4 linked regions of the Homo sapiens genome follow. The protein of the gene in region 1 interacts with the protein of each later gene in a pairwise test. Each region holds a gene or a part of one and is shown in the gene's direction. Other genes may lie near its edges. The genes, in order: CHAT, MNS1, MAOB and GABPB1.

Evidence for each region.
Region 2: the proteins of CHAT (region 1) and MNS1 interact in binary tests that used the Homo sapiens proteins (3 or more experiments, as listed by UniProt).
Region 3: the proteins of CHAT (region 1) and MAOB interact in binary tests that used the Homo sapiens proteins (3 or more experiments, as listed by UniProt).
Region 4: the proteins of CHAT (region 1) and GABPB1 interact in binary tests that used the Homo sapiens proteins (3 or more experiments, as listed by UniProt).

Annotation. Positions count from the first base shown.
Region 1 is NC_000010.11:49,659,019-49,666,046, forward strand, and holds part of CHAT (choline O-acetyltransferase), read left to right. Parts: intron 1-3,626; coding exon 3,627-3,764; intron 3,765-5,758; coding exon 5,759-6,028; 3' UTR 6,029-7,028. UniProt on the Homo sapiens protein: Catalyzes the reversible synthesis of acetylcholine (ACh) from acetyl CoA and choline at cholinergic synapses.
Region 2 is NC_000015.10:56,462,121-56,469,524, reverse strand, and holds the start of MNS1 (meiosis-specific nuclear structural protein 1), read left to right. Parts: upstream 1-4,387; 5' UTR 4,388-4,552; coding exon 4,553-4,555; intron 4,556-5,277; coding exon 5,278-5,499; intron 5,500-7,404. UniProt on the Homo sapiens protein: Microtubule inner protein (MIP) part of the dynein-decorated doublet microtubules (DMTs) in cilia axoneme, which is required for motile cilia beating.
Region 3 is NC_000023.11:43,795,444-43,802,471, reverse strand, and holds part of MAOB (amine oxidase [flavin-containing] B), read left to right. Parts: intron 1-208; coding exon 209-300; intron 301-5,205; coding exon 5,206-5,347; intron 5,348-6,583; coding exon 6,584-6,733; intron 6,734-7,028.
Region 4 is NC_000015.10:50,345,176-50,352,203, reverse strand, and holds part of GABPB1 (GA-binding protein subunit beta-1 isoform beta 2), read left to right. Parts: exon of another isoform or gene 1-3,268; intron 3,269-5,808; exon of another isoform or gene 5,809-5,832; intron 5,833-7,028.

The DNA of each region.
Region 1 (7,028 bases):
ATAGATGGAAAATACTCATAGCAAAGGAAATTTCACAACACTAAACATGAAGAGAAGATTCTAAAATCTATCAGAGGATAAAAAAATCAAATACAAAGATCCATAAAAAAGATGTAATTAATTTCTGAACAGCATCATTGGAAGGTGGAAGATAAAAAGAGTAGTGTCTTCAAATTCTGAGAGAAAGTGACCTTCAACACACATTTCATACCCAGCTAAACTGTCATCAAGTTTGAAGATGCATCAAAGATATTTTTAGACAGAGAAAGTCTCAAACATTTTACTTATTAAGCACCATTTCTCATAAAGCTACTGGAGAATGTAGACTTCTAAAGTGAGAAAATAAAACATAAAAGAGGAAATCATAGGCTGAAAAAAAACAGAAGATTTAACACAAGAAAAAGATAGAGGGGTGCCCGCAGGATGACAGTAAAAGGAGATCACAAATCAACAGTTGTTGAGTACACCTAGAGAGCAATCAGTCCATAAAGAAGCAAGAAGTGAGAGGACAAATGAAATTCTTGCTGCATGTTTAGGAATCAGTTAGAAACAGATACATGGGGCCTGGCACAGTGGCTCATGCCTGTAATCCTAGCACCTTGGGAGGCCGAGGTGGGTGGATCACCTGAGGTCAGGAATTCAAGACCAGCCTGGCCAACATGGCAAAACCCCATCTCTACTAAAAATACAAAAAATAGCCAGGTGTGGTGGCACATACCTGTAATCCCAGCTACTAAGGAGGCTGAGGCAGGAGAATCACATGAACCCAGGGGGTGGAAGTTGCAGTCAGCCGAGATCACGCCACTTCACTCCAGCCTGGGTGAAAGAGCAAAACTCCATCTCAAAAGTAAATAAATAAATAAATAAAATAGATACATGGAAAGCTAAGGAAGTAAAAAAGTAATTTATACATTGTCAATTCTAGGGAAAACAAAAAATTCAATAAGAAAGGAAATCTAATCATAGTACACTACATGACCCAGCTGTGAATACTTGCTTAATTATACTTATGTATATCGTTCTGTATACATGATTATGCTGTATCTTGATCAAACTACAAAGAGTTAAAACATAATCTTATTGGGAAGATGGGAGAGTAGAAGTGTGCTGGGGGAGCAGGGTCATAAAAGAGCTGAAATTGGCCGGGTGCAGTGGCTCACGCCTGTAATCCCAGCACTTTGGGAGGCTGAGGCAGGTGGATCACAAGGTCAGGAGATCGAGACCATCCTGGCTGACACGGTGAAACCCCATCTCTATTAAAAATACAAAACAATTAGCCAGGTGTGGTGGCGGGGTGCCCGTAGTCCCAGCTACTCAGAAAGCTGAGGCAGGAGAATGGCATGAACCCAGGAGGCAGAGGTTGCAGTGAGCTGAGATCGCGCCACTGCACTCCAGCCTAGACGACAGAGTGAGACTCCATCTCAGAAAAAAAAAAAAAGAGCTGAAATTTCACTGTCTATAACAAGAAGATTATAGGTAAAACTGAGAAATTCAGTAGTGGTAACCTAAGCATATGTTTGGAGGAAAGAAAGTATATACCCAAAAGAAATAGCTAAAAGACTGTAAGGAATTACCTTTGTGGGGTAGGAATCCGTGCTGGCAAAATGACCTAGGCTTTTGGTTTATTTGGATTTCTAAACGATATAAATATATGACAATAACAACTTTAAATTTATTAAAATGTCTAGGAAAACACCCTCCAAAGCATTGCCATAGGGTTGTGTTAATAATTTTAAGTTGATGAGAACAACCAAATCAAAGAGATGGGTTTGGGGAAAGGAGAGATACAAAGATGCTTAGGATGTGAATCTGGTGTGTGGTTGGACATGGAGGGTAAGGAAAGGGGGAAAGAAGCAAGGAAACCTAATAACTGGTAAGCATATTTGCCAGTGGTCGTGGAGAAATAAAGTTCCAATGGCAAGGTGGTCCAGAGCCCCCATCACTTACTCTCCCACTTCTATGTTTTCCCTTCCTCACACTTGAGTTTATGATCATGTTTTTTTGCATGGTTGATGAAATCTGTCCCCCACTACACCATAAGCTCCACAAGGACTGAGTCTACAACTGTCTTGTTCTCTGTTGTGGCTACAGGACCCGCGGCACCAGGCATATAGTAGGCACTCAATTAAGATTCCCTAAATGAATGAATGAAAGACTGAATTATAAGTCATTTTACTCGTTATTACTCATGGCTCTGAGCCAAACAACCTGTGAACTCAGTCTCTCTTGCTACAGTTATTCCAAGGTGGTGAAAAGAGGGGTGAGTTGACTGTTCACAGGGAAGCTGCTTCTATGGACCAACACAAATCAGGAATTAAATAGAGGAAACCAGAGAAATTAAAAGAGTAGTCTCCTTCATAGATGGGCTCACCGTTCTTTCCTTCGGTCCTAACAGGTAGGGCACGTCTAAAGTGAGCTGTGGTTGTGTAATGTTTGTCTTTTCAGCCTCTAATTAGGTGCGTTCAGAGAGACCAGAGCCTGAGTCATCTTTATGCATTCATTCGCAACTGAAAGAGAACAGCTGTCAAATCCCTAAACGTGCCTTGTAAACCTATACCAAGTTCATTGTGAATGGGAAGTTTCCTCCTGTGCAGGGCTTTGACAGCTAACTGGCCATCCTACAGAACTGTGAAACCCCAAGAGTTACTCACAGTTACCCTGATGTTGACCCAAAAGTGATTACTATGGGTCAGGGTGGCCCCCTGAGTCTCCATCAGCCCCTAGAATTGCTCCAAATAAACATGCAGTCCAAAAAACCAGTGTGCATACTACATACCCAGCCTCAAGTGGGGGAGCTGTAGAATGAGTACCCGGCCCCACTTCCAGACACCTCACCCTCCGTGAACCCCTCCTACATTGACATCCTGGAGCTTTCTCTATATTTCTATCCTTTGATAAAAGTTTAAATATCTTGTGATAAAAAGAAAAAGAACTTTTATTATTCAACAGGCTCTTTCCCCTTGAAAATGTCAGTTGAGCCTGCTAAGGGGTCTAGTTCCTGTCTCAAAACGATTTCTTAGATTATGGATCCAGTTTAAATGAATTGATCCTGAGCCATGAAATAGCAGCCAAGATTCAGTAACAGATCTCACACCCTCTATCCTCTATCTCTTGTTCCCTGGGCTCCTACTGGAGGAGACAGCGCTGGTTGTGGTGGGAGTCTGTTCAGGACAGCCTGGGACGCCCTTCACAATGCTTGCACAGGATCCGGTAGTCTCCAAGCTCTGCACACAGCCTTCTTCCCAAACTCTCTCCCTGCCCAAGCAGTTGGTAGTTGAGAAGACCAGGCCAGCCCCATTCTTTCCACTTAGAGAACCAGGCGGATATAGTTGTGTAGGGGATGCTCAGACTCACTAACCTTTAGCTCAGATGTCTCAAGCTAGAACCCAACCTGCTCTGGACTCATTCAGTGCATGTGGAAATGCGCAAGGGCCCGGGAGCAGAGGCCGCATGGTAGAGCGGTCAGTCCTGAGCAGCCACTCATACACATTGTTGGCAGCAGGCACTGGGTAAGCATGAGCCGTGGCTGCTGGAGTCACCAGCAGTCCTGTAGACTACAGAGCAGGGAACAAGGAGGTGCAGGAGGCCCACTTCTCATCTCCTGTTCTTTGTCCCCAACTACACAGGCCATAACAGGGATGGCCATTGACAACCACCTGCTGGCACTGCGGGAGCTGGCCCGGGCCATGTGCAAGGAGCTGCCCGAGATGTTCATGGATGAAACCTACCTGATGAGCAACCGGTTTGTCCTCTCCACTAGCCAGGTACGGCCCCGTGCAGCTATCGCCCAAGAGTAGTGTAGTCAGTAAGCTTTCTAAAGAGCAGTGACAACAAGCCCACTAGCTGGAATCAGGCAAATCCTGCCTCTGCTTTTTCTGAACTATGTGATCTTCAGCAAAATGATCTGAATGTTCATTAGAAGATGGTTTACTGACCAGGCTTGGTGGCTTACAACTATAATCCCAACACCTTGGGAGGCTGAGGCAGGAGGATTGCTCCAGCCCAGGAGTTTGAGACCAGCCTGGGCAACATGGGGAGACCTCATCTCCCTATTTTTAAAAATTAGCTGGGCATGGTGGTGCGTGCCTGAAGTCCCAGCTACTAAAGAGGCTGAAATAAGAGGATTGCTTGAGCTGGGGAGGTGGAGATTGCAGTGAGCCCTGATTGCACCACTGCATTCCAGCCCAGGTGACAGAGTGAGACCCTGTCTCAAAAAAAGAAAAAAGGAAGAAGAAGGTTTCCCATCTCCTAAATGGGAGTAATCAGCAGACCCTACTTAGCCGAGGTGGAGACAGTACAGGAACATACCCATTCTGGTGCCCTAACCATTACACCTTACTACCTTTCAATCTATTGCCGCGGTTTCCACGGGCTCTGATGCCCAGCAGGTCTGCAGTGAAGTCTTGGCTTGGCCAGATACAATTATGTAGGGAGAAAGCCCAGCCCAGGGCCTGGCATGGACAGGGCCCTCTAAATAGGTCACAGATATTATTATAAAGGGCCACGCAACCAACAGCAGAACATTCGTGGCCAGCCCAACATCTAACCAGTGCCTCAGCGTGTCCTGTATGAGAGCCACTGCCACAAAGACAGAATGCAATCCATTAGAGAGAGGTCGTGGTTTAGGAGGGGAAATGCCCCACAGCCATCAATTTACTAAAATGCCACCTCATCTGCGAAAGGCTGGATGGGCAGTACTGGAGTTGATAAGCTGTGTTTGAGGACAGAAGCCCACTCAGTAATGGGATGTTGTCATTATGGCAGTGAGCATGCAGACGTGAATAAACGAGGACAGAACACAGCACCATAAATTTCTCAGGAAATCATCCATGGGCAAAAAGTGCTTTGGAATGGCTTTATGGCCTTCGGCTATTGCACGGCAAATTTATCTGACAATGTGGTGACTCTATTAGCAAGACTAATGGTTTGTTCTGCCCCATTAAAACAGCCAGTGTCACTTCCAAAGGCCTCAGCACACAGCACCAGAAACCTGTAGGTTTAAAACAAACCAGGCCCTGCACCTGCCCAAGAATCCTTTCTATTTTTTTTCCCAAGGACCAGCTAATAAAATTAATCTGGGGTGTGGGAGTTTTGTTGTTTTCCAACTGGAAAGCAGCATTTATGGCTTGAATGCTTTCAGAAACATACTTTCTTGGTTTGTGATCTGGATTACAAAATCTCAGCACTCTGATTCAAAACATACTAGGTGCATAAGTAAAACTGATGGCAATCTTTGAAACACCCAACTCTGGGTAATTGTGCATGGCCAGGCTGCAGGGAGAAATCAGAGAAGCCAGGCAATACTGACAGTAATTAAGGATCTGGGGGAAATCGACACAGAGGATGGGCCAGATTTCCTCCAGTTCATAAATTCCTCCCTCCGGAAAGCATCTAACTATGGGGTGCCACCAGGGGACCATTTAGTAAATTACCTGATTGCCTCCGTGCCTCAAATGGCCCCCAGGTGAAGTGGAGACTCAGCCCAAGACCTAGCACCAGGTCACTCCGGGAGCTTCCAACTCCACAAGTAGAGCAGATTGCACACCAGGGAGTGGGCTTGGGGCCCCTCATCCTCTGATATCATGCAGTTAGATGGGTCTGTTTTTATGACTCTGGCTGTGTCCATCCATGCTAAAGCAATCACTTGATTTGGTTAATTCAGTCAAACCCCCAGGTGGAAAACAGAGAAGCCAAGCCCAGTCGAGGCTGGCGGGCTGCATTCCAGAACAAGCAGCTCCTGACCTGTCCTCTCCTCCAGGTGCCCACAACCACGGAGATGTTCTGCTGCTATGGTCCTGTGGTCCCAAATGGGTATGGTGCCTGCTACAACCCCCAGCCAGAGACCATCCTTTTCTGCATCTCTAGCTTTCACAGCTGCAAAGAGACTTCTTCTAGCAAGTTTGCAAAAGCTGTGGAAGAAAGCCTCATTGACATGAGAGACCTCTGCAGTCTGCTGCCGCCTACTGAGAGCAAGCCATTGGCAACAAAGGAAAAAGCCACGAGGCCCAGCCAGGGACACCAACCTTGACTCCTGCCACTAGGTTTCACCTCCCAAACCCAGCCTCTAGAACAGCCAGACCCTGCAGATCCCCACTCCCGTCCCTTACCCCAGCTTTCCACAGCTCCCTGTCCTCAGGGTCCAACTCACAGACCATACAGAGACATCACACAGAGCCGGAGTGTTAGGAGGAAAGGGTCCCCTCTTCATGCATGGGAATCATCATTTTCAAGGTGGCTTTGGGCCTGCACACTGGGAAATGGGACCTGCCTGGCTCAGAGGCAGCCTGGATGCACTGGGGAACCACACTAAGGACTCCTTCTGTGGTCCTTGGAAGCTTAGTGTTCATGTCTCCTTCCCTAGCAGGACCTAGTATGTCCAGGTGATGCTTCTGCCCAAGGAAAGGATGAGTCACTCTATTACATGCAACGTACCTAATGAGTTAGGAAGGAAGAGGCTAACTCCAGGTCATTACCTCTTTTCTTTTTTGGGGGAGAGGAGGCTGTGTTTTGAGATTCAGAGCATTCTTATCGTGGCATTCCCAGTGTCTCCACTGAGCCGTACAGTCCTACAAGCACCCACTCCTCCCACACACACCACAGAGCCCAAGTCCATTTAAAATATAGTGACTTGGGCCCACAAACACATTTCTGCTTTCGTGCCCAGGGGCAGCCTTCTGTTGAGCTCAGAAAATTGTGTCCAGCTATTCTGAAAGGAAAAAAAAATTTATCTGTGACTGCCCTGGAGTTGCTGCCACTCTCTGCTTAGCAGGCGGCATCAGGGCCAGTCCAAGATGAGTAAACTGCACAGCCCCAAGCAGATGGTGCCTGGTGCCGGTGGGTTTGCAGAGGACCTGGCCCCTTCCCGGGGTCCTGCCATTTGCATTTTTTCTGCATCTTTTCCCCTCTCCTCCCCTCCTACATGCTCCAGTAGGTGAAGAGAGATGGTTACTTTGGGTTTTTCCATTATCTGTTTTGTTTTAAGACAGAGATTTTTAAGAAAACCACCCTGACATTAATTTCAGAAATTC
Region 2 (7,404 bases), on another chromosome or scaffold:
GCTCAGGTTTTCCACAGTTTGCCTCTTCTGGGCTGGCCCCTCTGGCCCTCCAGACACACTTCTCTAGGTACATAGCTGATATGCCACAATTTAATTAGCCATTCCCTAAACACTGCATGTTTAGATCACCCATTTTTGTGGTGTTTTGTTTTTGTTTTTTTGCTAAATTAGAAAATTTTGCAATAAATAAAATCGTGCCTTTAGTCGTTTAAAATTTTTGGTCTGGTTAAGTTTTCACTAGAAAAATTGCCATAAATATATCAAATGTCATCAAATTTGGTACCTTTTTAAAGTTAAGAAATGAAAAAAATCCATATAAACATAGTTTACACATGTATATATCTCTATATAAATATAGGTATATATGTATACTTTTCTTTTTACCAATAAGAGCTTATATAATTCAGAAGGGGATTCCTCCACTCTTCATGATGAATTTAATATGGTCATCTTTACTTCACCGCTAGCCAAATTACAGTCTCTGTGCATCATATAACAAATTCCTAATGACATCACAAGTTATTTGACATCACAAATTCTGTATTCCATTCCTATATACATAATATGTAGATGCCAGTCTTCTATTTTACTACTCATTTACAAATAGTGGCTTTTCAATAAAATTACCCAGGTAAATTTTTATTCATATCTACAATGAATAAGCATTCTTTCTGTGTAGTGTTCTCAACCCTAGAAATCAATATATTACAATTCTGTAGTTCTTTCTCAGTGTTATGCTAGAATTCATGAAGTCAGCAATCTCCTATTCCTGTAGACATAGTGAAGATGCAAGAGCAAAAGTGAAAGTGAGAGACGAGGAACGAAAGACATCCACTAAGCCTGGGTTTCAGTGAGCTCACCAACCATTTCTTCATGTCTCTTTACCCCTAACAATTATTTAGCACTTGATCACATCATCACACAGTCCATATGATTCCCAGATTATGGTGGCTAAAATATCCAGAAACAGATTTTCTTGTCTTAATGAAACAATCAAATTCAATATATGGAAGTTAGCCTATTCTGCATCAACCAGAAAGTAGTCACTTCCTAACTGCATATGACAGACAGAAAAAGTACTAAAGGAAGTTATATACAATGAAACCATTAAATGCAGATTTGCCACAAGGCAAGATGGTAATACTTGAACATTATGAAGTGCAGAAACTGCACAAGCACATTATATTTTAAACACTTCATCTATTTAACAAACTATGTACCCTCTTCAGCTAAATAAGATGAATTGAGATTCAAGAGGCAGCACCATACTAGCAAATCTCATCCTAAAGGCATCCATTAATATAAATCAACAGCAGCAATTTGGTTTGATCACTTATTTGCAAGAATCATTAAGGTTTATTAGCATAATTGTTCCCTCTGGGATTTCATGTCGAGAAAATGAAGAATGGCATTATCAATATTTAAAAGATAAGTGTGTAATGTTCAGAGTATTTCAACAGTCATCTGCAGGTGGTGTCCAGCTGCAGCAAATTAGATTAGATTTGGGCATTTTTCTGAACGAAAGAAAAATTGTTTTGTTCTAATTGCTTTATTTTATAAAGCAATACCATTTCGTAAATAATTTTTACTGTATAGCTACACTTAACAGTGCACATCTATTAACATGCTTTATTTCAGATCAGCAACTCTGTTAAGTTCAACCCTGTTATATTGTAACTACTGGGGGACATTAATCAGTATAATTCATCATCCATTATAAGGAAAAGCTCCTTCCCCTCAGTACTCTAGACATTTTAGTCTAGACTTGTAGGTAAAAAGTTGTTTTCTAGAGGGAAATGAACGAGAAGACTTCCTTGTAATGTTGGGAAGGCATAAGTCCTCCCTTAACAATGAAGTATCATTTATGATAGTAATAATTTATTACTAGAAATAATATTTAAATGTAATAATTGTTTTTTAATAATGACATGCAATGGAATGTTATTTAGTGATAAAAATAAATGAGCTATCAAGTCACATAAAGATTTGCAGGAACCTTTAAATGAGTTTTGCTAAGGGAAAGATGCCGGTCTGAAAAGGCTACATACTGTATGATTCCAAAGATACGACATTCTGGAAAAGGCAAATCTATAGAAACAATAGAAAGATTAGTGGTTCCCAGGGGTTTGGGAGGAAGGAGTGAGGGAGAAATGAATAGGTAGAACACAGAGACTTTTTAGGCAGTGAAACTATTCTGTATGATACTGTAATAATAGATATATGACAATATGTCTCAATTTTCTGACCTCAAGCAACCTTCTTGCCTCAGTCTCCCAAGTAACTGGGATTACAGGTGCAAGCCACCACTCCTGGCCAGATACATGACATTATGTATTTCTCAAAACCCACCTGGGAGCAGTGGCTCATGCCTATACTCCCAGCACTTTGGGAGGCCAAGGTGGGTGTATGACTTGAGGTCAGGAGTTCAAGACCAGCCTGGCCAAACTGGTGAAACTCCGTCTCCACTAAAAATACAAAAATTTGCTTGTAGTCTCAGCTACTTGGGAGGCTGAGGCAGGAGAATCGCTTGAACCTGGGAGGTAGAGGTTGCAGTGAGCCGAGATCATGTCACTGCACTACAGACTGGGCAACATAGCCAGACTTCATCTCAGAAAAAAAACAAAACAAATCCTCATAGACCTGTACAAAACAAAGAGTGAACCCTAATGTCAATTACGAACTTAATCATATTAATATTGGTTCGTCAAGTGTAACAAATGTACTACACTAATATGTAATGCTAAAAATAGGGGAAATTGTATGGGTGCGGTGGGGAGGAGAGGTGAGACGGGGAATTCTCTGTATTCTGTCAATTTTTCTGTAAACCTAAAACTGCTTCGAAAAAGGAGCAAAGTCTATTAAAAATGTAGTAATTGTTAGGATAATTTTTTAAAGGTTAAAATCAGCTAATTGTTACAATTGATTAAATTTGTCTTGGATTTAGGTCAATATTCTGGCCAAAAATCTTTTTCTCAGATTACCTATGAAATTATATGAATCCTTCTACCATATCCAAGGGTATACTGGAAATGAGGAATTATAACTGAAGTTCCCTTTAGAGACGAAAGTCTTCATTTCGAGAAGTAAACAGTAAAAAACATACATGTTTGCTGAAATACTTTGCAATGTCACTATTTCACTATTAGGAATTAACAAATTAAACCCCACACTCTATTGAATGTGTTATACCCTGTTCAACCCTGAACCCATGCCTGTCTCCTGTCTCTTCTATACAGTGCCCAACCCTTTGCGGAGATGGATATGCCAAGAAGAGAAATTTATAGCAGGCTGCCTGCTTTGCTCCATTCCAGATCAATTTACACAGAACACCCAGAGGGCAGGTTTACGCCTTCTCTCCATTTCTCTCAAACAGTGATGGCAATGAGTGGAGTACTAGAGACAACATAGATATGCAACCACGGGATAAATGACCAAAGGACAGAGAGACGAGCGACCTCAGTTGTATGATGGAACCAAGAGAAGTCGCTGATTTTTAGTTGTTTTGATCTGGTTGTAAGGATGGGGTGACAACTTCCAAGCTTTTACACGTCAGCACTGAAACTGCAAGTCCCATTTGTTATTAATCTTTAAGCAGACATATTGCTACAGAAGACGGACTCCAAATTAGAATAACACAAAGTTATACCACTAATCACCTTATACAAATATTTTAGTGTTGACAAGATTTCTCTGAATGTATCATTTCTAAAATCAGTATATCTAATTTCTCTGATCCATTATCATTCTTAAACTTCCCATTTAAAATGGACTTTAGTGTCTAACCTGCCTATGGAATGAACCAGATCAACATCCTGCCATCATGTAACGTGCTCTCTCTTGGTACCTGGACCACATAGCAGAGTAAGATTCATGTGGCTCATAGATTTTAGTCCCAAAATTTACCAGCAGCTTCTGCGGGGGGGGGGGGGGGGCGGGGGGGTGAAGTGAAGGCTGCTGGAAGCTCGTGCTACCCTCAGTGCCTCACAACCCAGCAAAGGGGACAGCGACCTGGACTCCCATTGCTGAGGATTAAACCAGTCATCGTCCCTAGCAGAGACCTGGCTGACTAGGCACTTAGTGTGCGGGATGCTCCATGCGTGGAAATTTCCTTCGGCTCCATGCATTAGGCAGTAGTTTGCGTATTTCTCTGTGCGCAGTCTCCACAGTCCCGAACTTGGCTCCCAAACCCACTGAAACCACAGTTCGGCCGCTGGAGGGAAATCGAGCTTCCCTAGCCCACTGCAAAGTGCTTGGGTCAGGCCACAGTCTGAACTTCCCGCTTTTCTAGTTTAGACCTATAGAAGTAGCCCTCCTGCCCTGGTCCTAAGAAGCTCAATGCCGATTGTATCTTATCGCGTCCAATGGGAGGCCACGTTCTGCGTGGGTCACTTTTGGTCGAGCGGAGGGCGCGCAGCTCCACCGTTGCCAAGACGCCGCGTAAACACCCGAGCGCGCGCAGCCAGGTGCGCTCCTTGGGGCTGCTGGCTGCTGCGTTTGCGGCGGGAGGTGGTGGCCGCGGTCCCACGAGAGGGGGTATTTTTCGTCAGCCAAGATGGTGAGCCAGTTGGGGGACTTGAAACTACTTGTTTATTGTTGATTTAATTCTAGTTTGGCGCTCATCTGCTTCTAAAAAAGGATTTTAAGTGCTTAATCTGGTCATTAATTGGGGAACTTGTATTTGCTTTCGGAGGCTTCAGGTGCTATTAGAAGGGACGCTCGCGGTGGTTTCCAGCTTTTTTGGCACTTTTCGCATAGTGTATTAAATACATCTTTAAATCTGCCCAATAGAACCTCTGAAGAAATAAGTAGATATAAAAGTGTAGGAGAAAGCGAATTGATAAATAGCGGCGAATTGACCTATTACATTTATGTTAGGAAAATCTGACCAGCTTCTGAACAGCACTTTATGGCCCTGTGGTGGTAGTCGTGGTGGTGGTGGTGGTGGGTGGAATGAGGGGAGGAGAAATTCCCTGGTGGTAGTAAAGATCTGGGTCTGTAGGGTGCGATTAATCCTAGCACAGCTATTTATTAGCTGCAGAACCTTGGGTAAAGTTACTTTTCATGTTTCATCTATAAAATAGGTAATAATAACAGTACCTATTTAATCGATATGTGAACATATTTACCACGTTTACTTTTTATTCGGTATACTCCTTTGAATTTAGGAAGGAAGCCAGGCTCTTCGTATCCTTTCTTACTAAGGTTTATATCAATACATTTTTTAAAATTAGATTTTGGAATATCAAAATATGCATCTTTTTTTTTCTTCCATCGTAGGGTTCCAAAAGGAGAAATTTGAGCTGTAGTGAAAGGCATCAGAAATTAGTAGATGAAAACTACTGCAAAAAATTACATGTCCAAGCTCTAAAAAACGTCAACAGTCAAATCAGGAATCAAATGGTGCAGAATGAAAATGATAACCGTGTTCAGCGCAAGCAATTTCTCAGATTATTACAAAATGAACAATTTGAGTTGGATATGGAAGAGGCCATTCAAAAGGTAAGTTTTACTATTCATTGTTACTTTTTTTTTCATTTTGCACCTTGGAAACGATGAAAGTCAGCTGTTAATGCTGGAAATGAGTAGATAAACAACAGCAGCAGGTAAGTGATGCCTGATTGTGCCTCAGCTCGGTGTAATCGTAAAGACCTGGGTTTCTGGAGCCGGCCTGTCTTTGAATCCTACTACTGCTATACCTTAGCTACGGACCCTTGAGTAAGTTGCTTTTACTTTTTTTTTTTTTTGGATGGAGTCTTGCTCTGTCGCCCAGGTTGCAGTGCAGTGGCACGATCTTGGCTCACTGCAACCTCTGCCTCCGGGGTTCAAGCGATTCTTCTGCCTCAGCCTCCTGAATAGCTGGGACTATAGGCGCGCAACACCACGCCTGGCTAATTTTTTAATTTTTAGTAGAGACGGGGTTTCACCATATTGACCAGGCTGATCTCGAACTCCTAACCTCGTGATCCGCCCGCCTCGGCCTCCCAAAGTGCTGGGATTATAGGGGTGAGCCACCGCGCCCAGCCTGCTTTTATTTTTTATGCTTTTTCTATAAAATGGGGAATAAGAATAGTACCTCCTACTTAGGATTGTTTTAATAATGAGTTAATACATGCAAGACTCTTGGAATAGTGCCTGGTACAGAATAAGCACTCAGATTTTTTTTTAACATAAATATGAACTCTGTAATTACTACCAGTTTTGTTCATGTAAGTACAATTGTGTTGCCTTTCATAAATTTCTAAAAACAAAAATTTAGGGGTGCCTTTAAAAAATTTACTGAAATTAATGTATACATTATTAAGTGGTAGAAAATGAACCCTTAGGTATATCTCAACATTTTAAGGGATTAAGGTGGTAGAAAAGGGAAACTAATAAGAATTGAGACATGATAGAAGTGAATTCTCATAAATATATAAAAGGTATTCTGATATGTCAGTAGTTTTTGAGTAGCTGCTGTATGTTAAACATTTTGGAGGATTTTGTGGAGAATAACAAAAGCAAATTTAAAAAATGATATCCACCCTTCTGTGTTCCAAATTCAAAAGCTTAGATATGATTTTTTTTTTTAACTCTGAGAAAGCACATCTTAGGGGTTGGATATTTTTCCTATTCTTATTATTTTCTCTTTAATTTGAAAGAATATCCCAGGTATCACACCAACTCTTTCCTACATAGTTAAGTGTACATCTAACAAAATATGGATGTTTTCTTACATGGAGTACCATAATACTATTATCTCACCCATTCCATAAACACATTTCTGTGATTGTGTCAAAAATCTGCTTTTACAGTTGGTTTGTTTTAACCAAGATCCAAGGAACATTCATACGGTGTATTTGGTGGTTATGTCTGTTTAAGTCCCTCTTAATTGAAAACAGCCCCTCCTTCACCGTGTTTTTCTTTTTTGACTTCATGTTTTTAGCTTGCTAAACTAAGCCAGTTGTTTTATCCAGTAGCCCACATTCTGAATATACGTGTTTGCTTCCTCATGTTCCTTTAATTTATTTCCCTATCTGTTATATTTCCTCTAAATAGAACCTAGCCATAAAGACACAATTAGATTGCGGTCCACCTTTTTTGGCAAGAATACTCCATAGGTGATGCTGTCTTTGTCATTGTGTCACAACAGGGAACACATGAGGTCTGGTTGTTCCACTTTTAGTGATGCCAGTATTGATCAGTGGGTTTAGGAAGACAGTCTGGTTTCTCCACTGTAAAGGTTCCCATCAAACTTTCATCTGTGGTTTCACAAAAGAATTTTTTCTTTCATTAGTGGTTACAAAAACTGATTTTCTGATTCTTTTATTCCTTTCACATTTAATTAGCTGAAATTCCTCTGTAAAGAACTTCACCTTGGGCCAGCACAATTGCTCACCCATATAATTCTAGCACTTTGGGAGGCCA
Region 3 (7,028 bases), on another chromosome or scaffold:
ATTTATAATAGGAAAGCTACATAGACAGCATTGATTATGCAGTAAAAGCAATATTGGATGAATTTGGAAAACTTAACATTTTTCCTCTTTAAGGTAGAGTTTTTAATACTATTTGAATAGTTATTTAAAGTGGAAAATTACAAAAATGAATAAAATAAAAGAGAAAATTACATTTGTCTTTCTCCTTCGAATCCTCATCTGAATGTAGATTCCGAGTGATGCCCCATGGAAGGCTCCCCTTGCAGAAGAGTGGGACAACATGACAATGAAGGAGCTACTGGACAAGCTCTGCTGGACTGAGTAAGTCTTGCCATTAGGCACAGGCATTTACTGTGACCACCTTTTAGGTTTATTTAGCAATACCGTTCAACAAGTATGGGACAAGTAGCTGCTTTGTGTCTAAAACCACACCACCAGCCAGTGGCATGCTGAAAACCATTGGAATTGGCTCCTACCCTGAAGATATCTGTACATACAACTTACTTCTTTGGAGTAGTTTTGTATCACAAAGGTGGTATTACCCTGTGAAGTCCTCAGAACAGACCAGAAGGTACCACTTTCTTTATCTGAAACAGCTTAAAGACCATCAGCTTAAAGCTCTCATTTATTAAGTTGTTGATATAGGACAATTTTTGTATTCTTCACTGGTGGTCAAATGTGGAGATGGTTAGCATGTGCATTTGCCACACCTTGTGTGAAGTAGTGCAATTCTTCAAGGACTTAAAGAGGAACCTCTAAAGCCTTTGTGTAGATAGGTCACAACTACAGGGGAAACATGTGTGACTGGACTGGCTGTTCCCCTTTAGTGAAAAAACAAGTACCTATGAGTTAAGCATTAAATTCTTGTTGGCAGAACTGGGAACTGTAGAGAAATTGTGAAGGCTTGTATAGACAGACCACATGGAGAGGCCACACTGCTCTTGGACAGCAGGGAAAATGGAAAGGATTATGAGGGTTCCCATTCAAGCACGTGGTAAATTTGTGGTAAACAAAATAAGAGAAATGGAAGCCAAATTCAAGGAGACTGCCCTGTCTTGCTAAAGAGCATTAGTTGAGAATATGTTTGGCTCGGGGGTTAATGTCTTCATTTTTAGGCATTCATTCACTGCCAACTAAAAGTAAAAACAAGCTTTTAGAATATCTGAATCTTAAAAATGGAAATAATCAAAAGACATAAAATTCATATATTTTTCATATAAAAATTCAGCTTCTAATAATTTAGCTTTAAGAAAGTGAGGCAAAAGAAGAGAGAGGCACCAGCATGGCACATGTATACATATGTAACTAACCTGCACAATGTGCACATGTACCCTAAAACTTAAAGTATAATAATAAAAAAAAAAAAGAAGAGAGAGGCATACAGGGAGAGAAGGAGAGAGGGAGAGGGAGAAACAGTGAAAGAGGCAGATTCAAAGCATTATTTTTAAAAGGGAGGATCTGAAAGCCCAATAGTAGAAGATCGGCAGAATCAAGTATGGAACATCTAAAAAATTGAGTACTTGAGGGTTTTAAAAAATCGTGTTGTAGAGGAATATTTAATGACTGGAAAAAATAGTAATATTAAACACATAGAAAAGCAGGCTATTGTGGTATGGTATATGATCTCATTTCTAAAAACAACTATTTATATATGCACTGCAAAAGCAATGGACATCCATTGAAGTATTTTTAACGTTTAATATTACCATGCAAACATTTATTTTTAAAATGTTTAAAAACTTTACATCATTAAAAATTATTCTTTAAACATCATATTTCATGGTACCAGAATATTCCATGGGAAATGAATACGTAATGTATTTGTCCATTATCATCCTGTTGAACACATTGGTTACTTTCTGTTTTTTGTTATTATCATTATACAATACTCTATAATAAACATCTTTATGCCTCTCCTGTGTTTTCAACCTTTGAAAGCAACCAGTTCTGGAATAGTAAAATCCTTTTATGTCATGAAATCAATGCGTGTTATTAATTATATTCTTTTAAACATTTACCTAATGCTATCTAACACCTCTATGAGAATGTAGTTTGCAATATAATTTATTTTAATAGTAATAAAATTGTAGTATTTAGTTTTAAATTATATACTTTAGATTTTCAAAATATAATAAGTATGTAATTATCTGCATTTGTTTTATAACTCCTGTTATGAAAAGCTTTTAATAAATTCAGTTAGGTCTTCTCTCCTCAGAGAACTTTTAAGTTTCTTGGTGATAAAATCAATCATATGTTTTTGGGATCACAGGGACCCGACATTTTCTATCGTAGCCCTTGGCCTAGTCCTCCACTTAGTGAATATTCTAAGTTGTCATTTGACAAAATAAAGCATTCTGAGATACTAGGAGTATAAGAACACAAGACAATTTTCCAACTCTTCCCAAGCAAGATACACACAGTATTATTTCCTGGATTTAAATGAAGTAATCCCCAGAATATCCAACCTATTGTTGTTCAAACTAAAGCACAATCATACATTCCAAGACTAATGTTGATTATTCTTTCAGTTATTATCATTTACAAAGTGCACTTCACAAACATGAATTGTATTTTCAATGTGATCACAGCTATGTAAAAACATTTTTTAAAAGACCTATACTTAGAAAAAAATGCATCAAAATGAGACTAGTAATTATCTTCTGGAGGGGCAGAAATATGGAAGACACTCGTTCTCTCATCCTTTTATCTTATAAATTTTCCAAATTTTATATAATGTGTATGTATTTTTCATGTAGAAAAATATTATAACATTTATCTTTTAAAAAGTCAACAGGGCAAAAAATACGGAAATATTGCACTAACTTCCTTGACCTTCCATCCTTCAAATATTGTTCTTATTTCTTTTCTTACTGAAGCTCCTAGAGTAAATTCAAATAAAGGATTAGGAATGGACTGGCCCTTCAGAATTACTTTTAGATCTCCCTTTATTTCAAACCAGAATTATTTCTTTCCCACCAAATTGCCAACAATAACAACTAGAATTCCAGCAATATTTTTGTTAAATATTGGCTCTCCAGCTGGGCCAATGTTAGGTTTCAGTTATTTATTACTCCCTTTACTGTATGCCCCTCAATCCACCTAAAAAATAAGGAAGAAAAGAAATAGGATTTTAGGAAGCAACAAATAAAATACTACTTTTATTTTAAATTGACGTCTGGATATGTGTTTTAGTTAGATATTACAAATTGCCTCTGCAAGGAAGGCATGAGCTAGCAATTTCCATCCCTTCAATTATCCTGAGAAATCTTACAAAACTAACTGTAAGTCGCTTTAATGTATATATGACACCATTTCACAGGCTGTAATGATGGGGACTGTCATAGACGGGCTGTCAGGTTGTTACAGCTGCAAATAATGTCAATAATTGGTATGTGTGTTAGGCATGATTCTACAAACTTCTAGGGTCAAGATACAGTAAAGTAGAGAGATGCCCCTTGGTGAGTAGCTGCACTTCCAAGGCTGTCAGCTGACTAATTAGAAAACATTTTGAGGTATCAAAAGCACGAGTTTTGCGTCAAGTACGATCTGACTTGAAGTTGTGTCGTTATATATTCCTAAACTGTCCGAGACTCCGTTTTCTAGCATGTGAACTGTGGAAAAATAATAGATATTTGATACGGTTGTTGCAACAATTTAACAAGATAATGATTTTAAAGACAATGGAGTGTGGAAAGAGTTCAATAAATGGAAGACAATATCATTTATCCCAACCATTGTCAGCATTACCAGGTGGAAAATGCTGCCTCAGATATAACAAGATTAACAATATGCAAACTTCATGTCAAAGTCAAAAGGGGAATTGGACCTTATTAAAGAAATCCCAGAGTGCACACTACTACTGATGAATTTTATGCTGTGCTAGATATAATGGAGTCCTCGAAATTGCATGAGATAGTTTGCTTTCTGGTGTGCTTCCTGATAGGTGATAACCTCTCACCATTTACCTGCCAATGTCAAGCAAAAGCTTACCCATTTATGCTCTATTAATTGTTTGTCCCCTCATCCATTATTTGAGCTTGTCTTCTGTTAGGCAGTAAAATAACTGAATAGATAACTGTGACTAATTTTGTGTTTGGTACAGCACCTAGCATATCCTTTGCATGTTATGGATGTTTAAAAAATTTTGTTTAACTGATATTTCTCATCAATCATTCATTCGTTCAATCATGCAACAAGTAATTATTGAGTGCTTACAATGTTCCAAGCACTATTTTGTTAAAGGGGACACTATGGTGAGTGAGAAACAGAAGATCCTTGTTCTCATAGGTTGATATTCTAGTGGGGGGAGACAGCAATTAAAAAGAATTAACCAATAATCAAGACAATTTCAGACAGTGAAAAGAGTTATAAAGATACTATACAGTAGCAAAATGATAGAGAATGTCAGGATGCTGGGAATATGGAAGCCAGTGGTCGTTTTCATAGACAAATGTGAATATGTCTTTCTAAGGAAACATTAGAGTAAAAAGAAGAGGGTACAAGATGAGACAGAAAAGGTAGGCATGGGCTGGATCACATAGGGCTCTGGAAGCCATGGTGTAAGATCTGAATCTTATTCTGGTTTTAATAGGATACCACTGGAGACTTTTTAAGCAAGAAAATGACATGATTTGATTTATACTTCAGAGAGAGCATCATGGTAGGGAGGGAGGGAAAAGCCTCTGGCTTTGAGTGTGGTGAACAGATACCAGGTGAGGATGAATGGAGGCAGAGAGGCCAGTCTGAAGGAAGTAATTGCAGTACTCCTGGAAAGAGATGGATTCTAAATTTGTGGTGAAGGTGGAGTGATGTGGTGAGAGATAATGGGACTTCCCAATGAATTGGATGGGGGAAGATTGATGGAAAGAGAGAAATAATGTTTGATTTCTAGAGTGTTGGTTTTTACCACTGAGTAAATGATGGTGCTTTTTACTGAGATGGGGATCACTGGAAGAGCAGCAGGAATGTAAGGAGAAATCATGAAAGCACAGAATCTGGAATAGAAGCTGATTCTGAGTAAGGTGTTTTGTTTACAGGGAAAATAATCTGATATTTCAAAAACCTCCGATGTCACGTTTTGTAATATTAGATTCTAGTGACAATTTTTTGACCTTACCACATTGTTTTAAACTTAACCAAGAAAATGTGTTACTTAAATAATTTTTAGAGAATTAAGAAGCTGCTCTCCTGCGTTTGCCAAGTTTGCTCTTGTTTCTTCCTGTGCAGATCTGCAAAGCAGCTTGCCACTCTCTTTGTGAACCTGTGTGTCACTGCAGAGACCCATGAGGTCTCTGCTCTCTGGTTCCTGTGGTATGTGAAGCAGTGTGGAGGCACAACAAGAATCATCTCGACAACAAATGGAGGACAGGTACCCATCCATTCTTCCACAGTCCCAATGGAAAAACACTGCTACTGAAATGAAAGATCATCATCCTTCAATCATGAACTGCTGAAGTGGGAAGCAGGCTTGTGGCTTTTAGAGCATTACCATGGCAGCTCAAAGTGTTTCTTGTAAGGCAGTCTGTTGTCAGGTACCCACTGTGAGAACCCAGTGTCCAATGTAATTTTAAAGCTAGGCTTGTCTCTCTTTATGCACTGTGGCCATTTTCCATACGCTCAATTATTATTTGGTAAGTTTGTAGGAGACCATCTGAATTAAGCTTAGCTTGAGCACTTCTTGGAAAGCTTATAAAGGAAATTCAGTAATGCATTTTCAATTTAAAACACACACTATTCATGGAATTCATTTATCTATTCATTCATTCAATGCCCATTTCTTGAGCCCCGGCACTGTATAAGGCACTGTGCTAGACACAGTAGGAACATATTGGAGTTCTTAAATAATCTGCTTGGTTGTCATGTTCCATTCTTCTCTCTCCCCCTCCTCCTCTTCTTTCTTTCTCTTCTCCTCCTCCCCCTCCTCTTTCTCCTCCTCCTTTTCTCTTTCTCCCTCTCCTTCTCCTTCTCTGACCTTAACTGAAAATTGAGGAGGAGGCAGCCAGGTCAACTGTGTGCATAGCCAGGTAGAACATTTGGAAGTTTTAGCAAGGCTGAGGGCAGGTGGGTACAGTGAGGTGAAATGAGTTCGGTGGCTACAGAAGCAGCAGGCATCTGACCCAGGATAAGATGGGCAGCCTGCAACAGGGAGTAGGCTGGCCTGGGGGAAGGGGACATGGTGGGAGGCAGGGAAGTTCTGCGCTTGAGCCACAAAGCAAGGGGAAGCAGGCTTAGGTCTGCTCAGGCAAGCTAGGGAAGAGCTTTAGGTACAGCTTCACCAGTTCCAGCTCTAAGCAAAAGACTGCAGATAGGACAGAGAGCAGGGATGGTGACCAGAAAGGTGGGATACAGGGGTCATTCTGAAGATGTCCAGCTAAGGTTGGAGTCTGGGAATCTACAAGAGCATAGCTTGTAAAGTAACTTAGAAATCCTGTAACTTTGTCCAAAGACAGCAATTCCTACTTAGAAAACCATGGTGAAAGCCACTATTCACTGCAGCAAAATGAAATGTTAGACATCTCAGAGTAGACATATGTGAGGACAACTAAGAATTTAGCAATTTATGCCCATTCCTGCGTTTCTCTTTCACCTCCTTTTCTCTTTCCAGGAGAGGAAATTTGTGGGCGGATCTGGTCAAGTGAGTGAGCGGATAATGGACCTCCTTGGAGACCGAGTGAAGCTGGAGAGGCCTGTGATCTACATTGACCAGACAAGAGAAAATGTCCTTGTGGAGACCCTAAACCATGAGATGTATGAGGTAACTGTGATATTGTGAAATATATATTTGATCTTCATCCCAGTTTCCTGGCATACAACTTTAAAAATTCTTAGAATCTCCAGAGTGATGTCCTTTGATGCCAATGATTGATGGCTGGCAGCCCCTAGGTAGCTTCAGGATGGGGCTGGTCACAGGAAAGACCATGGAAAGACTAGAGGGTTGGGACTTTCAGCCCCACCCCCAGCCTCCAGGGAGGGGATGGGGCAAGGGGCTGAAGGTTGAATTGATCACCAGAGGCCAATGATTTAATCAATTGTGCCTACATAAGGAAGCC
Region 4 (7,028 bases), on another chromosome or scaffold:
AAAGTGCACGTCATGAGGAATTCAGAAATTCAGAAATTACATGAAGTTTTGCATCATGAATTTATTTTTGAGGGTGCACGAGGCAGTTACCCAGTCTCTGTTTGCAAGTAGCCTGAGTTCAGATGAACTCACTGATGGCCTCCATCTCTTCTGACTTTGCAAACGTTGAAAAACAAACCCACACAAAATCTTGAAGTTGAGAGCAACTTAGTTTCCTTAGTGTCATCCCTCTGCTCCCCTCTCCTCCCCAACAACTAGTATGGTTTCCAGCTAGTAATCACAATGTTTCTATAGCTCTGATGTGCCTACATTGGGATAGCTACAATTAGTATTATAGTTTTCTGAAGATGTTTGTTCCATCATGCTTTCTAGAAGGTAAATCTAGCACTAGATGAGATCAGTATTAGGGCCTGTGTTTTTTCTCAGTGTTGACATCACAGTGCTCTATACAAAGAAGATGCTTTGGTGCAATCAGCTGTCAGTTCAGTTGGTGGGCTAGTGCACCTTTCTGTCTCCCTCCCTCCCTCCCTCCCTCCCTCCCTCTTTCCTCTCTCCTTCTCCCTCTGTCCCTCTCCCTCTCTCTCCTTCCCTCCCTGTTTTCCCCTTTGCACCTCTTCTTTCTTTGACAGGGTCTTGCTTTCTCTGTTACCCAGGCTTAGTGCAGTGGTGCGATTATACTTCACTGCAAGCTCCACCTTTCAGGCTCGAGCGATCCTGCCTCTGCCTCAGCCTCCTGAGTAGTTGGGACTACAGGTACCTGCCAACATGTCTGGCTAATTTTTTAATTTTTTGTAGAGACGAGATCTCACTGTGTTGCCCAGGCTGGTCTCAAACTTCTGGACTCAAGTGATCCTCCCACCTTGGCCTCCCAAGTGTTGGGATTATAGGCGTCAGCCAACACACCCATCTGTGAATAATTCTGAAGTTGGTAGAACAGCTTATTGACAGAGCAAGGTGTTAGCCCCACTTTACTGTGTACTAGTTATATTATATTTGGGGTATTGTGTTGGCTTTTTGGGTAGCATACTATCATAAGTGAGACCTTGTATTCATTCTCAGACTTTATCAGAATCATCTGGAGAGCTAATAAAAAGCCACACAGAGGCCCAAACTTAAGTAGGGTAGGAACGGACCTTAATTTTTCTCATTTCCAAGGTGGTAGACACCTAAGTGTCAAAATCACTTATCTGTAGAGCATAAACGAGGACCTTGATCATGAGAGAAATGGAAATGAGAAAAAGTTGAAAAAATGGGATGTTTGACCTAAAGAAGAGGAGCTTCTTTTAAGAAGTAACAGCCACTTTTAAGGATTTGGAGTTCTGTCATGCAGAAGGATCAGATTTGACTTGACCAGAAGGAACTAGGGTCAGTGGGTGGAAGTTTAAAAGAAGCAGATTTCAATTCTCTTTCAAGATAAATTTCCTCAAAATTGTGAAAATAGAATGAGTTGTTTTGGGTGGTAGGCTGTTCCTGTTCACTGACAAATTGGGGATTCTAGAGTAGAGGAATCGTACTGAAGGAGAATTTGAGCTAGGTGTCTTCAAGTTACCTATAAACTTTGAGGTTTTATTAAATATGCCGAGGTTTACAGGTGGAAGAACAAAAAGCTAATTGAGTGAAACAAACTGGTTAACTTGATAATAGTTTTTGCCTTCCTGGATAAAGAGAAATGAGTATTAAGTGAGAAGGCTATTTAATGAAGGGCTTTAAACCACACTGTAATTTGGTAGATTCAGCAGCTTTAAAAATTGGCATACCTTCTGACATGGAAATTCCCTTTAAAGAATTTTTTTTTTGATGTAGTAAAGATGTGTGTGAATATTTAATTGTGAGCATACTAGATGCAGTATTGTTGATTATAAAAGCTGTGTATTAATGCCTTTAAGCCCCACGGTAATCATATGAAGTGGGTAGTACTATTTCTGCTTTTCAGAAGAAAAAACAGGCATAGAGAAATGAGGTTGCTTGCTCAAGGTACCTGAGTTAGTTAAGTGTTAGGGCCAGGACTTGAATCCAACCAGTGTGACTCTAGAGCCAGTACTATTGATCATTATATGGTAAAATTGTAAACAACCTAAATGTTTCACAGTGATTGTTAGGGTCCATCCCTACAGTGGGGTACTGCCTTCTCAGCCATGAAAATGATGATAGAATAATATAAAGACATGAAAGGATGTCTTGGTATATGTAAGTGAGAAAAAATAAATTTAAAAACATGATTCCATTTTGGTAAAAAAACCCAAAAATATATTATGTCTGGAAGGATATGTGCCAAATTGTTAAATGGTTATTTCTGAGTGTAGTTTTACAGGTGATTGTTTTCTTTTTGCTTATCCAAATTTTCTAACTTCTACAATGAATATAAATTATCTATCATGTTGTAATTAAGATATTAAGATGTAACTTTTCAATAAAAAATTAAATGTGTTAGCATAAGCTGAGAAATTTGGGTTTTATACTCTGCATTTTAAGCAAGTTTGTAGAAATTGTACATGAGAATTTGTAAATGCATGTAGTGTTTTGTAATTTTTTGTTTGATTCCTTATTCTAGAAGTAATATCAATTGAGTAGAGAAACATATCACTCCTACCACCCTACCATAATCAATTATTTTGTTGTGTGTTGTTACTCTTATGTGTAATATTTTAAATATTCATCCCAGTGTCATCCCAGTTAGTCATACTCTAGCTGTGTGATTTTAGGCAGTTTACTTAATCTCTCCGTGGCTCAGTTTCCTTCTTTGTAAAATGTGGATTATTATAATACTTAGCTCATGATGATTGGAAAGATTAAATGTTATTTCATATAAAGTGAACAGAACAGTACCTGAAACATAACAGTTAATAGCTCAATAAATGTTAGCAATTATAGGATCACAGTCCACCATTCAAACTCTTAGGGTCTAATAGGTTATGGAATTAGGAATTTTTTTTTTATATGGGCAAGGTAGTAATGTGTAGCCTTCCAATAGAGTCCAGTGCAATATCCCCCTTCAAAAGTGTTACTGTTTCTGCAACAAAATGTATGAATGTTCGCACTAAATAGGATAAAGACTGTAAATAGCTTCATATCAGTTTGGGTAAGGTTTACCACAAGATGAGTTATTTTGGGTTTCAGAAGTTTTTTGGATTTTTGGAATTGAAGATAAGGAACCTATAAAATATTAATTTTGAGTCCTATTTTATAATATTAAAACATCTTTTCATGGTATTTTATAGTTTTATAGTGCATGGTAAATTAAAGTCAATTAAAATGAAATAATGGAAAATGTCCACCTCCATCTCCTTTGATTTAAAAAATACTCAGCATACTGATACTATGATTTAAAAAAAATTTTTTTTTTGAGATGGAGTCTCACTCTGTCGCCAAGCTGGAATGCAGTGGCACGATCTTAGCTCAGTGCAATCTGCGCCTCCTGGGTTCAAGCGATTCTTCTGCCTCAGCCTCCCGAGTAGCTGGGACTACAGGTGCGCGCCACGACGCCCAGCTAATTTTTGCATTTTTAGTAGAAACGTGGTTTCACCATGTTGGTCAGGATGGTCTTGATCTCTTGACCTTGTGATCTGCCTGCCTCGGCCTCCCAAAGTGCAGCAATTACAGGTGTGAGCCACTGTGCCCAGCCAAAAAGTTTCAAAGTTTAAAAAAAAAAAAATGGCCGGGCTCAGTGTCTCATGCCTGTAATCCCAGCACTTTGGGAGGCCGAGGCGGGCGGATCACTTGAGGTCAAGAATTCGAGACCAGCCTGGCCAACATGGTGAAACGCCGTCCCTACTAAAAATACAAAAATTAGCCAGACGTGGTGTGTGCTTGTGTCTCGGCTACTCGGGAGGCCGAGGTGGGAGTATTCCTTTAGTCTGGGAGGCGGAGGTTGTAGTGAGCGGAGATTGTGCCACTGTACTGCAGCCTGGGTGACAGAGCAAGATTCTGTCTCCAAAAAAAATTTAAAAAACTACTCCTGTTGGTCCTGACTGTGATTCTATTTTAAAGAATATCTTAAACCCACTAATGCTGTGATTATATTACATAATGTAGAATCTTTTTCTGAAAGAGGCTTGAGCATTCCTATAACCCAATTAGCTTGTTTATGTCTCATTACACTTGAGGGATAAGATACTTTTACTATGGTGGTTTACTATAGTAGTGATTCTTTTTTTTTTTTTCCAGATGGAGTTTCACTCTGTCACCCAGGCTGGAGTGCAGTGGTGTGATCTAGGCTCACTGTAACCTCTGCCTCCCGGGTTCAAGTGATTCTCCCAAGTAGCTGCAGTTACAGGTGCCCGCCACCATGCCCAGCTAATTTTTGTATTTTTAGTAGAGACGGGGTTTAGCCATGTTGGCTAGGCTGGTCTCCAACTTCTGACTTCAAGTGATCTGCCCACCTTGGCCTCCCAAAGTGCTGAGATTACAGGTATAAGCCACTGCGCCCAGCCTATAGTAGTGATTCTTTAAAGGAGGTGGGTAGATGACACTGTGATACCTGTCTTTAATGCACCCATTCTGTGCATGTAGAGACTGAGGTGGTTGTAAAATTACAGTACTGAACTTTGGAATTAGGTCAATTCTTCTCATTATGATAACGGTTTTGGATGTATAGCCCCTTCTGACTCCTGGAATCCTTTATTTCCACAGCACTTCCCATGTATCCAAACAGAGGAAAAAATAATTAGTAGTATAGTGCTTGCTTCAGCAGCACATATACTAAAATTGGAACGATGCAGAGAAGATTTTCATGGTCCCTGCACAAGGATGACACATAAATTTATGATGTGTTCCATATTTATTATTATTTTTAATAATAAAAAATAAAAAAAATTTGTATGGTGTGTAAGTGAATGATCTAAAAAATTTCCTTTGTGCCCTAAATGACTTGTGTGAACTCTGTGATCTTTGCCAATGTGATTATTCTTCCTGTGTTCCTTTACTTGTTCCATTCATAGTGACCCTCAGTTTCTTGCCCTAAGTGCTATGGTCTAAAAGCTTGTGTCTCCCCATAATTCATGTTGAAATCTTAACCTCCAAGATGATGGCATTAGGAGATGGGGCCTTTGGGAGGTGATTAGCTCAGGTGGGTAGAGCCCTCAGGAGTGGGATTAGTGCTCTTAAAAAAGAGACTCCAGACCGGGTGCAGTGGGTCATGCTTGTAATCCCAGCACTTTGGGAGGCTGAGGTGGGTGGATCAGGAGGTCAGGAGTACAAGACCAGTTTGGCCAAGATGGTGAAACCCCATCTCTACTAAAAATACAAAAATTAGCCGGGCACAGTGGCAGGTGCCTGTAATCCCAGCTACTCAGGAGGTGGAGGCAGGAGAATCGCTTGAACCTGGGGGGGGCGGAGGTTGCAGTGAGCCGAGATGGCGCCACTGCACTCCAGCCTGGGCGACAGAGTGAGACTCTGTCTCAAAAAAAAAAAAAAAGACTCCAGACAGCTTGTTAGCTCTTTCTTCCACATGAGGTTACAGCAAAAAGACAGATGTCTAGAAGCTGGCCCTTACCAGATACTGAATCTGCCAGTGCCTTATTTTGGACTTCTCAGCCTCCTGGGCTGGGTGAGGTGGTTCACTACCAGCCTTGGCACCATAGTGAGACTCCCATCTCTACAAAAAAAAAAAAAAAAAAACTTTCTGTTGTTTGTAAGCTACCCAGTTTATGGTATTTTGTTACAGCAACCCAAACAGTCTGAGACGTTTAGCTTAACTCCTGTATGCACTAGATACAGTCTGCACTTTGACATCAATCACTTATTTTATATTTTACTGGACTCCTGTTGTCAGATTTTTCCACCATCGATTTCTTCTGTTTTCCCTCACAGGTCACAGCATATTTGTGGAGGAAGGTGAGTAATTATGAAGATTTCTTGGCCACTATAAATTTACGCTGAACAATTCCAAATAGGCCCCTCCTACTTCTTGGCAATCATCTTATTAATTGCATTTTTCTGTTGTCTCATATTCCTTCTTCCTCTTTAACTCTTAATAGATGCCATTTACTTCTATATAAGTGAAAAAGGAAAACAGGGTACAAGCTTGCACATTTTTTTTTCATTGTAACCATGACAAATCACTGTTCTTTCATCTTATTTTGTAAATTGAACGGAAGAAGAATCCTGCTGCCACAGTTAACTTTACCTCTCTGGTCACTTTGATTGTTATTTGCAATGTTTTTTCTTCCCTACCTTAAAATATGTACAGACTTCTCACCGGGCGTGGTGGCTCATGCCTGTAAACCCAGCACTTTGGGAGGCCAGGGCGGGTGGATCACGAGGTCAGGAGATCGAGACGATCCTGGCTAACACAGTGAAACCCCGTCTCTACTAAAAATAAAAAAAATTAGCTGGGCGTGGTGGCGAGCGCCTGTAGTTCCAGCTACTCGGGAGGCTGAGGCAGGAGAATGGCGTGTACCCGGGAGGCGGAGCTTGCAGTGAGCCGAGATCGCACCACTGCACTCCAGACTAGGCGACAGAGCGAGACTCCATCTAAAAAAAAAACAAAAAAAAATGTACAGACATCTGTACTTTGGGAGGAAAAAAAATCAATTTTGATGAACTGCTGCTACTGTTCTTTCTAGCTATCTGCTGCATTTCTCTTCATTTCAAAAATTTTAAGAATTGAATTACAATTGCTGCCGTGAGTTTTTACTTTTTTTTCGAAGACAGGGTCTCACTGTGTTGCCCAGGCTGGAGTACAATTGCAGCTCACTGCAGCCTTGACCTCCCCAGGCTCAGGTGATCCTCCTACCTCAGTTTCCCGAGTAGCTGGGACTACACGCATGTGTCACCATGCCTGGCTAATTTTTGTATTTTCCTGGTAGAGACAAGGTCTCACTGTGTTGGCCAGGCTAGTCAACTCCTGAGTTCTTTTACTACTACTTTCCTAACTTACGCAGTTTTGGAATAGCATAATTCAGATTGTCGCTTCAGAGGACATCTTTTTTGTCAATAATATTGGCTTCATCCTGACTCTTTTCAGCTAGTATATATGTGTTACTATTTCCACTGAGGCTTTTTAATGTTCTCTCCTTGCCGTTTGTGTT